Regions from separate parts of the Homo sapiens genome. Here regions 2 and 3 are each linked to region 1. The links come from fine-mapping of genetic effects on gene expression. A gene starts in region 1. Each other region holds a variant in brackets. All regions are shown on one strand. Distances are from middle to middle. Region 1 holds the start of LINC00426 (long intergenic non-protein coding RNA 426). Region 2 has its middle 23 kb from the start of LINC01058. Region 3 overlaps LOC124903145 (a long non-coding RNA gene).

What was found. PIP is the estimated chance that this variant, and not a neighbour inherited with it, causes the effect.
Region 2: its variant is the best candidate, but not a certain one, in a credible set for the expression of LINC00426 in whole blood (TOPMed, PIP 0.70).
Region 3: its variant is the best candidate, but not a certain one, in a credible set for the expression of LINC00426 in lymphoblastoid cells (TwinsUK, PIP 0.51).

The regions. Positions count from the first base shown.
Region 1 is chr13:30,371,909-30,376,151 of GRCh38, forward strand. It overlaps LINC00426 (long intergenic non-protein coding RNA 426), which reads right to left and starts at 2,006. Exons shown (of 5, transcript NR_024464.2): 1 at 1,875-2,006; 2 at 377-466.
Region 2 is chr13:30,397,196-30,401,438 of GRCh38, forward strand. No RefSeq gene overlaps it. Among named protein-coding and RNA genes, the nearest start is that of LINC01058, 23 kb to the right of the region's middle. The variant T/C (reference allele first, on the strand shown) is at 2,510.
Region 3 is chr13:30,325,600-30,329,842 of GRCh38, forward strand. The region is part of intron 1 of LOC124903145 (a long non-coding RNA gene); the gene reads left to right. Among named protein-coding and RNA genes, the nearest start is that of LINC00427, 7.8 kb to the left of the region's middle. The variant C/CA (reference allele first, on the strand shown) is at 2,414.

The DNA.
Region 1 (4,243 bases):
TTGGGACAGAAAAGTTTACTTTTGCTCAGGCTTTATGGTGACAGCCAGCGTGATCAACAGGAATGCTGCAGTTGGGTGACGCATGAGGCTCAGGAGCCTTTGCGCTTGACTTTGAAAGATTATAAATACACCAGGCTCGCCAAGCATAGCCAGTCAGTTACAAATTACGAGTCATCTTTCGGTTGTTGCTGAACTTCCTTTACACCTCTTGTTTTGAACACAGTGAGCAAACAACGTCTAATCTTTTGGCTGTGGAGTTCCAAGTACACCACAAGGCATCGGGACACACCTTTACCCCAGCTGCTTTGTGTGGTTGCAGGTTAACCAGACATGCAGCTAGGAGTTCACCTAAAACCTTCCTTTCCCCGGTACATACCTTGGTGTTGATTTGACAGCTGGATGCTGAGTATTGATCCCAGTGTTCAGGGATAGTTACTTCATTAAGACTTCTGAGATCCCCCATTTGCTTGAAGATAAAAACAGGCAAAGGTATAAACAGATAAACAGTCACACAAATAAGTAGCTGTGTGGGCCATTACTTTTAAAGCATAGTAGATGTTATTTGTGTTTGGAGAAGCTTAATGATACACTCAAGAATCCAATAGTAGAAACTGTTTGCTTTCAGGAAGAAAACGTTATATCAGGAAGGTATGTTTGAAGAAAAGAACTATATAACAGCGATCCACAATACACCTGTTCATTTGTAGCATAATAGTTACACCTGCTCCCTGGGGCTTTTTTGAGATTTCAGTCTTTGGTGTAAGACACACATACACACATGTGCACACACAATGGTAAGCATGCATGCTCTTCAGCTTCAACCCTCAGTGCGCAGTAAAATAAAAAATATAGTTGAATCATCTGTCTCAGCCCCAGCTAGAGCCCACGTCTTCCAACATGAATTTTAAAATACCTTTTTGCCTTTTAAAATATGCTGTAGAGGCCGGGCGCGGTGGCTCACGCCTGTAATCCCAGCACTTTGGGAGGTCAAGGCAGGCAGATCACGAGGTCAGGAGATGGAGACCATCCTGGCTAACAAGGTGAAACCCCGTCTCTACTAAAAATACAAAAAAGATTAGCTGGGCGTGGTGGCAGGTGCCTGTTGTCCCAGCTACTCAGGAGGCTGAGGCAGGAGAATGGCGTGAACCCGGGAGGCGGAGCTTGCAGTGAGCCGAGATCGCGCCACTGCACTCCAGCCGGGGCAACAGAGCGAGATTCCATCTCAAAAAAAAAAAAAATGCTGTAGATGAGTTTTAGTTTATCCGGGTCCTTTGTAATTAATCTCTGCATTCATCATAATTGGAAGAAAAGCTCAAAGTAAGAAAATAGCTTTCCTCCAAGTTTATTGCAATCAGAGAAAAATACAATTTAAATGTTTTTGTTTCCCATTTCTGTTCCTTACATGCATTGTCTAGAGTGGTTCCTGGTCTATAAGCCAGTGGGTTGAGATACCTGACCAGACCACCTTTTCAACCCAGTTCTTTCTCCTCTTTGTATTTCTCCCATACAATACAGTATTGAATATTTCATAACCTATGGGTGTATGTTTTTGGCAATGTGGCTAAGTCAGGCAGCATTGAGGACTGTCCTGGTGACAGTCCGGTGCAGCCCTCACCCAGGCTCCCACATTCACACCCCTCCACTCTCCAGTGGGCTGTGTAAGTTAACGGCAAATAAATGGCCCAGAATGGCTTCCTGTTAGAGAAAAAAAGGGACAAAGACTTCTGCCCTTAAAACTCTGGTAACAAAAGTAATCTAGTGGAAATCAACATTACTAGGAATATCCTATGATTTTGGTGGTGTTGAGTTCAAAGACAGCATGGCCGAATTGTGACCATCCACCCAGTCACATGAGGCAAAAACCCAGGCCCTACCTGTGTCCTGACCTCCAGCTTCCTCCCCACGGCCAGTTGGTTAGAACGTGTAGGGAGTGTACCTCTCCCAGCCGTGGAATCCCCTCACCATCTTCACCCCTTCCCCACCTTCAAAGACTTTCATGGCCGAGTGTGGTCTGACCACACTTGATCCAAAGCCCTTCCTCTGAGCTCTCAGCTCCACGTCACAACCTCGTGACCACGTGCCTCTCACTGTCATGTGCTTAGATATGTGTGTGTGTGTCCACCTCACCACACACTGTGAGATCCTTGAGGGCACGTTGTCTCTTTCATTTCTGTGTCTCCAGTGCCTAAAATGGAAAGTGCTCACTTACTAAATAAATATACAATATAAAAAATAATTTTTATCCCTTGTCCCATTTGAGATGGAAAATGAGTAAAGTTTACAAGTATTAATATAGTCAGCATCCCACTAAGACCACACAGACACTGAGATGAGCAGAGGATGCTGAGGAGCAAATGCAAAATAAACTATGAGAACTGTGACAGCTTCCAGTGCTCTTCATTATAAATATCAGCAATTGCTAATATCCAATAACATGTCACACACTCTACATTAAATCATCACAAGTCTCTAAGGCAGGTGTTAGTTTTCTCTTTGTACAGCCCAAGAAGCTGAGACAAGAGTCACACAACCAGCCAATAGAGAGAAAAGATTCAAACCCGGAGACCTTCTGTCTCTAATCCCACCCTCCTCCCACTGTCTCCTGCTGCCTCTCTGTTTCAAAGCTTGGCTCTGAGACTATGAGCACTGCCAAAATTTTACAACAGTTTGCGTATGTCATGGTCTGCAAAAGCTGTGGATGGCACTGTGGTGGCAGCCTCAATAGAAGGCTGAGACTACTTACCAGAGGGAGGATTTCCTGAGCTCCGATCACACCTGCTCTTTGTTCTCTCTCTGTCTGTCTCTCTGTGTGTGTCTCTCTCTCTCTCTCTCTCTCTCTCTCTCTCTCTCTCTCTCTCTCTCAATACAGACAGGGTCTCACTCTATTGCTCATGCTGGAGTGCAGTGGCGTGATCATAGCTCACTGCAGCCTCAAAGTCCTGGGCTCAAGTGATCCTCCTGCTTCAGTCTCCTGAGTAGCTGGGACTACAGGCATGCACCACCAGGCCTGGCTAATTTATTTATTTTTATTTTAATTTTGTAGAGACAAGGTCTCGTCCCTTCCCCAGACTGATCTCGAACCCCTGGGCTCAGGAGATCCTCCCACCTCGGCCTCCCAAAGTGCTGGGATTACAGATGTGAGCCACCACTCCTGGCCCACACCTACTCTTTATCCTCAACCCACACCCCCAGGCTCAAACTCAAAAGGAAGGAGCAAACCCTAGAAGCTGCGTAAAACACACCTTGACCTAAAATGTGCTCATGACCAGGCAACTTGACTACATATTCTCCTCGACCTACGGTGGAGTGACATCCCTATAAAAGCCATTGTAAATTGAAAATATTGAAAGTCTAAAATGCTTTGAATACACCTAACCTATCGAATATCAGAGCTCAGCCTCGCCTCCCTTAAACGTGCTCAGAACACTTACATTAGCTTACAGTGGGCAACATAATGTAACACAGGCCTATCTATGTTATAATACAGTGTTGAGTATCTCATGTGATTTATTGAATACTGTACTGAATGTGAAACAGAATGGTTGTCCGGGTACTCACCATTAGCTGACACAGCTGAACGCACACTGCGCCTGAAGAGCGTTTGAAGCATTGAACTAAAATTAATTGCTGGGTGATGGGGATGCTACAACGACAGGGTCATCAATTTCTCTCTCTTCTGCTGAGGCTGGAGAACCACGGGTAGAAGGCGCTGGAGCATCAACGCTTGATGGTTTGGCAGGCGTAGTGCTCTTCCTTCAGGAAGGCATCAGGTGTCCGTGGTTTACCCTTCTGATGGCAGGGCTGCCTGGGTGCTTTGGCTCACAGCCATGCCCAGCATCAGGAGAGTGTCATACAGCATATCCCTTGCCTGTGGGATAAAGGCCAGTCTTCAGAATCCGAAGTGCACTTTTTGTTTTTTTTTTTTGAGACGGAGTCTCACTCTGTTGCCCAGGCTGGAGTGCAGTGGCATGATCTTGGCTCACTGCAACCTCCACCTCCCAGGTTCAAGCGATTCTCCTGCCTCAGCCTCCTGAGTAGCTGGGACTACATGCGTGTGCCACCATGCCTGGCTAATTTTTGTATTTGTAGTAGAGACGGGGTTTCACTGTGTTAGCCAGGATGGTCTCAATCTCCTGACCTCATGATCCACCCTTCTCGGCCTCCCAAAGTGCTGGGATTGCAGGCGTGAGCCACCGCGCCCAGCCCTGAAGTGCACTTTCTGCTAAATGCCTGTCACTGTCAT
Region 2 (4,243 bases), 25 kb after region 1:
CTGTGAACCTGGGTATACAATTATCTGCATGAGTTCCTTTCAATTATTTCCTTTCAATTCCTTTCAATAGAAGTCATGCTTTCAGTTACTTTGGATAAATATCCAAAAGTAGGATTGGTGGATATATGGTAATTCTGTTTAATTTTTTCGAGGACCCACCGTACCGCTTTCCATAGAGGCTGTGCCATTTGTTTTTTCTAGAGATGGGTCTCCCTTTGTAGCTCAGGCTGGAGTGCAGCGGTGAAATCAAAGCTCACTGTCACCTCGAACTCCTGGGCTCAAGGAATCCACCCACCTCAGCCTCTCCCCGAGTAGCTGGGGCTACAGGTGTATGCCATCATACTTGGCAAAAAAATAAAAAATAATTTGTAGAGATGGATCTCACCATCTTGCCTAGGCTGGTCTGAAACTCCTGGGCTCAAGCAATCCCACCTGAGACTCCCAAAGTGCTGGGATTATAGGCATGAGCCACCACGTCTGGCTGAGGCTGTGCCATTCTGACCCTGTTGGTGGTTCAGGTCTTTGTAAGAGGTGAGCTTGAAAAAGACATAAATTTTATTCTTTGATTTTCTAAAGACTCACTAATGCTGGACATGGTACCTTGTTTCTGCCTTAGGCTCTCCTTCTACAGAGGGAAGATGGCCGTTACTATCTCTCTCAGGAAAACAAGGAACTATGGCAAGTGTTGTTGAGATAGGCTGGGAGAAATTTAGTTCAAAATATGGTATATGGCCGGGCGTGGTGGCTCACGCCTATAATCCCAGCACTTTGGGAAGCCGAGGCAGACTGATCACCTGAGGTCAGGAGTTCGAGACCAGCCTGGCCAACATAGTGAAACACCATCTCTACTAAAAATAAAAAAATAAAAAAAAAAATAGCCGGGTGTGGTGGTGCACACCGTAGTCCCAGCTACTTGGGAGGCTGAGGCAGGAGAATCACTTGAACCCGGGAGGCGGAGGTTGCAGTGAGCTGAGATTGCACCACTGCACTCCAGCCTGGGTGACAAAGTGAGACTCCGTCTCAAAAAAAAAAAAAAATACAGTATACCCTCATCCTAAGTTTTGGGGTCAGAGACTGTGCTGTCCCTTCCTCCATCATGAACTGTGCCCCTCTTTCCAATGCATAGGTCAAGGTTAGGGATGGCCATAGGGCCACTTTTGGGGGCCTAAGTTCTGATATCTGCATTGCTCACCAGACATGTATGTCAAGGACCTTCTCTGAGACAATGCTGCTTTTATAAAATACCATCCTTAGCCAGCAGACATATCTTGCCTGCATTTCTGACTTCTGTTTCAGCTCACCATCTTCCTTTTCCTTTGGTGTGGGCTACACGTCTAGAGGGAAGAGAAGCCATTGAATGTCTGTCAAAATCCAGCCAAGATTTCACTAAGAATATGCTAGCTGTATCCTTTCTCTCAGTCTCCCCCTTCCTGACCTCCTGGCCAGCGCTGACTCAGGATAGCAGAGGCTCTGCCAATTTCAGGGCACGCTTTTGCTCTCTGTTCAGTCACAGACCCACGTTAGGCCCTGTCAAAGCAGGAGAGGCCCTACACCTCTCTCATGAGGCACATAAGCAGTATTGGCATGCTGTTCTTTGGAAGGTTCCCCACAACTGTCCCTCGGCCCTCTGGCACTTTGGACAGGCTGGCCTTTTGGGCATTACCTGCCAGAGTCTCCGGAGTGTCCTCTGAGACTGGCTATGGGGAAACAGGGAAGGGGAAGGTGCTGGCGCTCATGCTGGAATAGTGCAATGTTTTGATCAAAGTTCACAGAGTGATCACTCCAGAGTAGCTGTGCTGTGTTTTTAGTCATGCTGACAGCAGCGAAGTGGCCTCTACACAAAGCCTTCTCTTGGTGCAGGATCAGAAACAGGGCTGGAGGGGGAGAACTCCTCGGTGCCGACTTACAAGGTCCCTAAGAAACAAGATCCCACCCGTATCTCCCAACAAAGGTTCAACTCTTGTTTCTGAAGCATGTGCTGCTAAATTAATTAGTCCTTAGTGGCCAGGAGAGAAGGGCCCTTGGTCATTGTAGCCATGCGGGTAATGCCCCACTGTCCCCACTCTCCCAGCCCCATCAGAGTAATACCCTACTACCCCCACTCTCCCAGCCCCATCAGGCCCCAGGGCTTGGCCTCTTGGAGGTGACTTACCCCTCTGGAGTGAGGCTCCATGAGGGCAGGGCCCCCTCTCTCTTAATCACTCTTGCATCCCTGACACCTGCAATCGTGCCCTGCAGAGAAAACATTCAATCAATATTTGTGGAATGAGTGAATCCATCACTGCAATTTTCTGTCCTGGGCTGGAGAATGGGCTTGCCTTCTCTTTAGAAGACAGTAACTGATGGCCTCGATGGAAAAGAGACAGATTCTCTCTATGTTGCCCAGGCTGGTCTTGAACTCCTGGGCTCAAGTGATCCTCCCACATTGGTCTCCCAAAGTGTTGGGATTACAGGCATGAGCCACCACGCCTGGCCTCACCTATTAAGAAACAGATTTTGCAGTAGGTTA[T/C]GGGAAATTCTAGATGGAGTATTAGCACAGGAGCTGGGCTTGATGGGATATGAAGGAAAAAGGTCCCAGGAAGCATGATAGGAGAAAATGAGACAGCAAGTTTCAGATGTTCTCTGCCTTGATTTTATGACAACATACAATAGAATAGGGCATGTTACAAGAAACCATAAAGAATATTCCAAACGTTTTTTTTCTTTTGAGACGGAGTTTTCACTCTTGTTGCCCAGGGTGGCTTACAGTGGTGTGATCTTGGCTCACTGCAACCTCCGCCTCCAGAGTTCAAGTGATTCTCCTGCCTCAGCCTCCTGAGTAGCTGGGATGACAGGTGCACACCACTACGCCCAGCTAATTTTTTTGTATTTTTAGTAGAGATGGGGTGTCACCATGTTGACCAGGCTGGTCTCAAACTCCTGATCTCAGGTGATCTGCCCACCTCAGCCTCCCAAAGTGCTGGGATTACAGGCGTGAGCCACCACGCCCGGTCAAGAATATTTCACACTTATATAAAGCATGTACTAAATAACTCTAAGTAAATAGGATCCATAACTTGTTAGCTTGAATGCAAGGTAAAAATAAAATACAAATAAATAAAACAAAATAAATAAACAGGGTATTTTGAGTTGCTAGAAAAGAAAGAAAACCCTCATTTGGAAAAACCACAGGCCTCCTTGGAAGAAGTTAAGCTGGTGGTTAGGATGGGATCAAATTGTTGTCTTTATTAACAGCTGACAGTTGCTGTGAGTAAAACTCTGATCAACCCATAAACCCAAAAGCAGATCAGATGTGGGAGAGTTCTCCTTCAGCTTTCCAGCAAACTTGTCTCCTGCTTCAACCAAGTCAGACCTGGGCTGAGCCTGCAATGAAGAGCCTCAGGTCAGAGTCCAAAAAGTCATTAGGAAAAACATATGAATGGTAAAGCCACAAATAAAGATACCACCTAACTTCTCTACCTAGTGCCTCATGTAATTGTCAGGCTACAGGAAAGAGCGCTTACTTAACTCTGCGCTTGGCACTTGACAAATGTTTATTGGCTACCATTATTATTGTCATTATTGTTATACTGATGTGCCACAGATATAGCCATTAACTTTCCAAGTCCCAAATTAGAAACCTCTGGTGTAAAATTTGTTGGGTGCAGTGGCTCATGCCTGTAATCCCAACACTTTGGGAGGCTGAGGTGGGTGGATCACAAGGTCAAGAGATGGAGACCATCCTGGTTAACATGGTGAAACCCTGTCTCTACTAAAAATACAAACATTAGCCAGGCATGGTGGCGGGCGCCTGTAGTCCTAGCTACTCAGGAGGCTGAGGCAGGAGAATCACTTGAATCCAGGAGGCGGAGGTTGCAGTGAGCCAAGATCGTGCCACAGAGCGAGACTCGGTCTCAAAAAAAAAAAAAGTGTACATATACTCAGAGAACAAGATAGGCTACTTTGATCCAAGACTATCTAGAAAATTTCAGGCTGTGTGTAGCCCTTTTCATGGGCTCACTGTTGACAACCACTCCAGCCTAGTTGTGAAACTTACCCAAGTTCGTGTATTTTTGAGGGTACACAGGGTAGTGGTTCATCCAGCAAATCTAAATCCCAGTTGTTGCATTCAATTCAATTCAAACCACACATTGAGTACCTAAATGTAAAATATTGAGCAGGGTGCTCCGAGGAATAGAAAAATGAAAAAGATGGCCCTGTCACTCAGACGCTCAAATCGTCAAGTCGTGGGGAGGCTACCAGG
Region 3 (4,243 bases), 46 kb before region 1:
CAAAAAGGTGAATCCTGGGAAACTGGAAAGTGCCAGGGAGATGGTAGAGAGAAAGGAGCTTGGGAAAACGAACCCAGACAGTTATTTGCTGGCTTGTGGGCACACCCTTGAGCTGTGCATTCTTGGATTTGATCACAAACATCATAACAGAGACTTTGAGAACTGAATTAACAGCTACATCGCTATCTAGGTCCCATCCTGACCATGAAATAATAGGCACCCAGGAGAAACGTGAACAGGACCACAGTGACTTTGAAAATAGAACTGACATTGCAACCACAACCACAGAAAGCTGATCAGAACTTGCAGTCTAAACCAATTGTGTCAATTGCCTGCTAAAAAAACATAAGTAAATGAACAAACCTGTACAGATTGAAACAAGACCTAGTGTCTCATAATATAATATTCAAAATGCTCATGATATGCTTCAAAACTAGTCGCCATGTGAACCAGGAAAATCTCAACTCATGAGAGAAAAGACAATCAATGGATGTCAATATGAAGAAAACACAAATGTGATAGTTATTTGACAAGAAATTAAAGCGACTTTTATAAAAGTGCTCTAAGAAGTAAGAACCAACACTCTAGAAAGCTTTAGCAAAGAGAATAAAGATTGAGAAAAGTAAAAATTAAAAAAAAAATTAAAAACCACCCAGAACTTCAGGGTCCTGTGAAACAATTCCCCAAAAGCCTAATATTTGTGTCATCAGAGCTCCAAAAGGACAGGAAAAAGTGTGGTACAGAAAAATACTCAAAAAATAAAGACTGGAAACTTCCCAAATTTGGCAAAAAGCACAAACCTATAGAAATTCAGTGAACTCCAAACAGGACAAACCCAGAGGAACCTATGCCCAAACATTCTAATGAAACTGCTAAGAACTAAAACCAGCCCCGAAAATATTAAAACAGTCAGAGAAAACCAACACACTATTTATAGAGGAACAATTAAATGACTGTGGAATTCTCATCTAAAACAATTGGAGGCAAGATGATAAAATGCTGAAAGAAAAAAAATTGTCACCCTAGAATTCTATATTCTAAGAAAATATCCTTCAGGAATGAAGGTGGAATAAGAACATTATCAGATACATGAAAAATAAGAGAATTTTTGGCAGCAGTCGTGCTGTAGAAGAATTACTAAAGAAAGATCTACAGACAGTTACCTCGTGTGAAAGAAACTAGACTCAAAAGGTTATGTACTGTAATGATTTCATTTATATAGCAATTTCAAAAATAAAAATTTGGCAACAGAGAATAGATCAGTGGTTGCTAGGGTTCGGGGTGGGATGAGGGTGTGATTAAAATGGGACAGCATGAAGACATTTTGGTGTGATGAAGCTGTTCTGCAACCTGATTCTCTACACTCATTAAAAGGCGTAGAATTCTACACACACCCAAGGTCAATCTTGCTGCATGTTAATTTTTTTTAGGCCAATAAACAAGAGATGTTCCTCTCTAAGAACCTTCTAGTCTAAATAATACTGAATAATACTTCACCACCTTCCTTGGACACCTGCTTGTGAAGGTCATTGACAAGGCCAATGCCCGGTTGTTTCTGCTGCCCTTGAGTGTGCAGCTCACAGCTGAATTTACCCTCCCCACCTGCCCCACTGCCAGTTCAAGCTCAGAAAATATCACACGTTTGAGCTGAACAATGAATAAGAAGTCAGGAGGCATTTTGTGGGACTGCCCTCTTCTACAAAATCTATAAAGCTCACCTCCCTTCGCCCCTCCTGAGAAACAAGATAAGAAAAAAAACCATTGAACTTATGAAGATCAGGACTTATATATCTAGGTGTCACCTCATCATTGGAGCACCCACTTCTGTGTTTCCTTCCTAGCTGCTGCACCCCAAAATGTGCAGCAAAGCCCCAGCAGGCCCTGGAGCCCCTACCTGCTGCACTACCCTACCACTCCACTGATGTCTAGAGTATTTCTCTTGCAGCAGATATCCTTTTGGTCAAAGTAATAATTGTCCTTTTGTATCAGGTGGTTGGTATTCTTATTTTCGCCTTTGGCAGACCCATAGGAGGAAAAGAGAATCGCATGTTTGCAGGAGAAGGGATAAAATAAAAATAAGACCTTAGGCATTGCTCTAATACTGCAGTTCTGCATTGTTTAAAAACCGTGTTTGTGGCTGGGCGCGGTGGCTCATGCCTGTAATCCCCGCACTTTGGGAGGCCAAGGCGGGAGGATCATGAGGTCAGGAGATCGAGACCATCCTGGCTAACATGATGAAACCCCATCTTTACTCAAAATACACAAAAAATTAGCCAGGCATGGTGGCAGGCACCTGTAGTCACAGCTACTCAGGAGGCTGAGGCAGGAGAATGGCATGAACCTGGGAGGCTGGAGCTTGCAGTGAGCCGAGATCACGCCTCTCCAGCCTGGGCAACAGAGAGAGACTCCATCT[C/CA]AAAAAAAAAAGCAAAACTGTGTTTGTGTGACTCTTTCCCCCTTAAGGCAGGCATTATGCCTTACTCAGTTTTGTGTCTCCAGGGAACTGCACAGTGATAGACATGTGGAGGCACTCATAGAGATATAGGTTGTAAGTAAGTGAATGCATGCACCCATGGCTGAATAAATGAACCGTGTGACTGATACAATTCTGCAAATACAGCAGATGCCCAAGTGGGTCTCTTAGCTCTGACAGCAGGCAAAGGTGGTGGTGATCCAGTGGCCTAGAGAGGGCAGGGTGCCAATGGAGGGCTCCAGTCTGGTAACAGGAAGGCAGGAGAATTGGGCCACAGCAGGCACCTCATCCCCCTGCCCCCCTGCCCCATGGATTGGCACGAGCAGTCCATCTCTAGGCTGAGCAGAAGGAAGGAAATCACAGCAGAAAACATAGTCCTGGTGAGATGCTCTAAAGTCAATATTCGAACGAAAACATCACTCCTCTACAGTGTTTCCTGTTCCATGAGATGCTCCTTCAAATAATGTCCCCTCCTCAAACACGTTTAAAAAACACTCTAGGCTGTGTCTCCTTCTTAAAGATGCACAATACATATTTGCTTATTAAATCCTCTGGAAAGCCGCAGAGTAAAGAAATGTTTAATTTTTTAATATATAGTTGAGGTAGAATGAACATATGCACAGGTCTTGTATTCAACTCAATAATATTTGAGAGTTTAATGCTCAGTTTACTGCTACCCAAAACAAGATGTAGAATATTTCCATCACCCCAGAAAGTTTCTCCATGCCCGATTCCAGCCAACCCACTGTCCGCACTCAGAGACAACCACTGTCTTACCGCTCATCAGCATCATCTGCCTTTGCTTGTTCTTGGACTATGCCACATGTATTTTTGTGTGGCTTGCTTCTTTTGCTCAGTGTGAAGATATTTTAGTTGTGTCAATGCTGTTGTGTATATTAGTAGTTCTTTTTTTCATTGTTGAGTTGTATTGCATTGTGTATGTAAATAAGTGTGATAGATTATATACATCTATATTGTAATATATAGAGAGATTATATATATATATATATATACACACATATCTCATAATTTGTTTATCCATTATCCTGTTGATGGATATTTGGGTGGTTTCCAAGTTTTGACTATAATGAGTAAGGCTGGTATGAACATTCTTATGTAAGTCTTTTTGTAGACATATGTTTTCATTTTTCTTGGGTAAACATGTAGAAGTGAAATTGCTGGACCATAGGGTATATATGTTCAATGTTATAAAAACTGCCAAACAGCTCTCCAAAGTGGTTGCACCTGTTTAACTTTTTAAACTTAGTATTTCCTTTGTTCATTTGACCACAGAGCCCCACAGATCTGTAAAATGAGCAGGTTGGACCAGACAGCTTTTAAGATTCTTTCCAGCTTTATGCAGTGATAGAGGCCAAGGCATTCAGGAGTGGAGTTGATCAAGGTCAGGATTTGTCTTCTTTCATAAATCGTGTAGGCAAGAGCAAATGACACGAAACCCAGAATAACCAAATGTTGGGAGTAGGAAGATAGAAAACATTGCTGAGTCCAGGGAGTGGAGAAGAGGTAATAACTAGCAGGTAGTCACCTGGACAGAGGCATGAAAGAGGAAATATTTAAGCCAGAAGGAATCTGAGGTAGAAACAATTAAAGCAGAAACCACGGTATACAGAAGACTCCGGCAGTGTTTAAGAAGTTTCTTTGGCCCAGGGGCATCAATAATGATAAGACATTCAGAAAACTCTTCAAGACCACTGTTTTCAAAAAAGGGGGAGTTGCAGAGAGGATTTGGGGCACAACTGAAAATAAGGTACA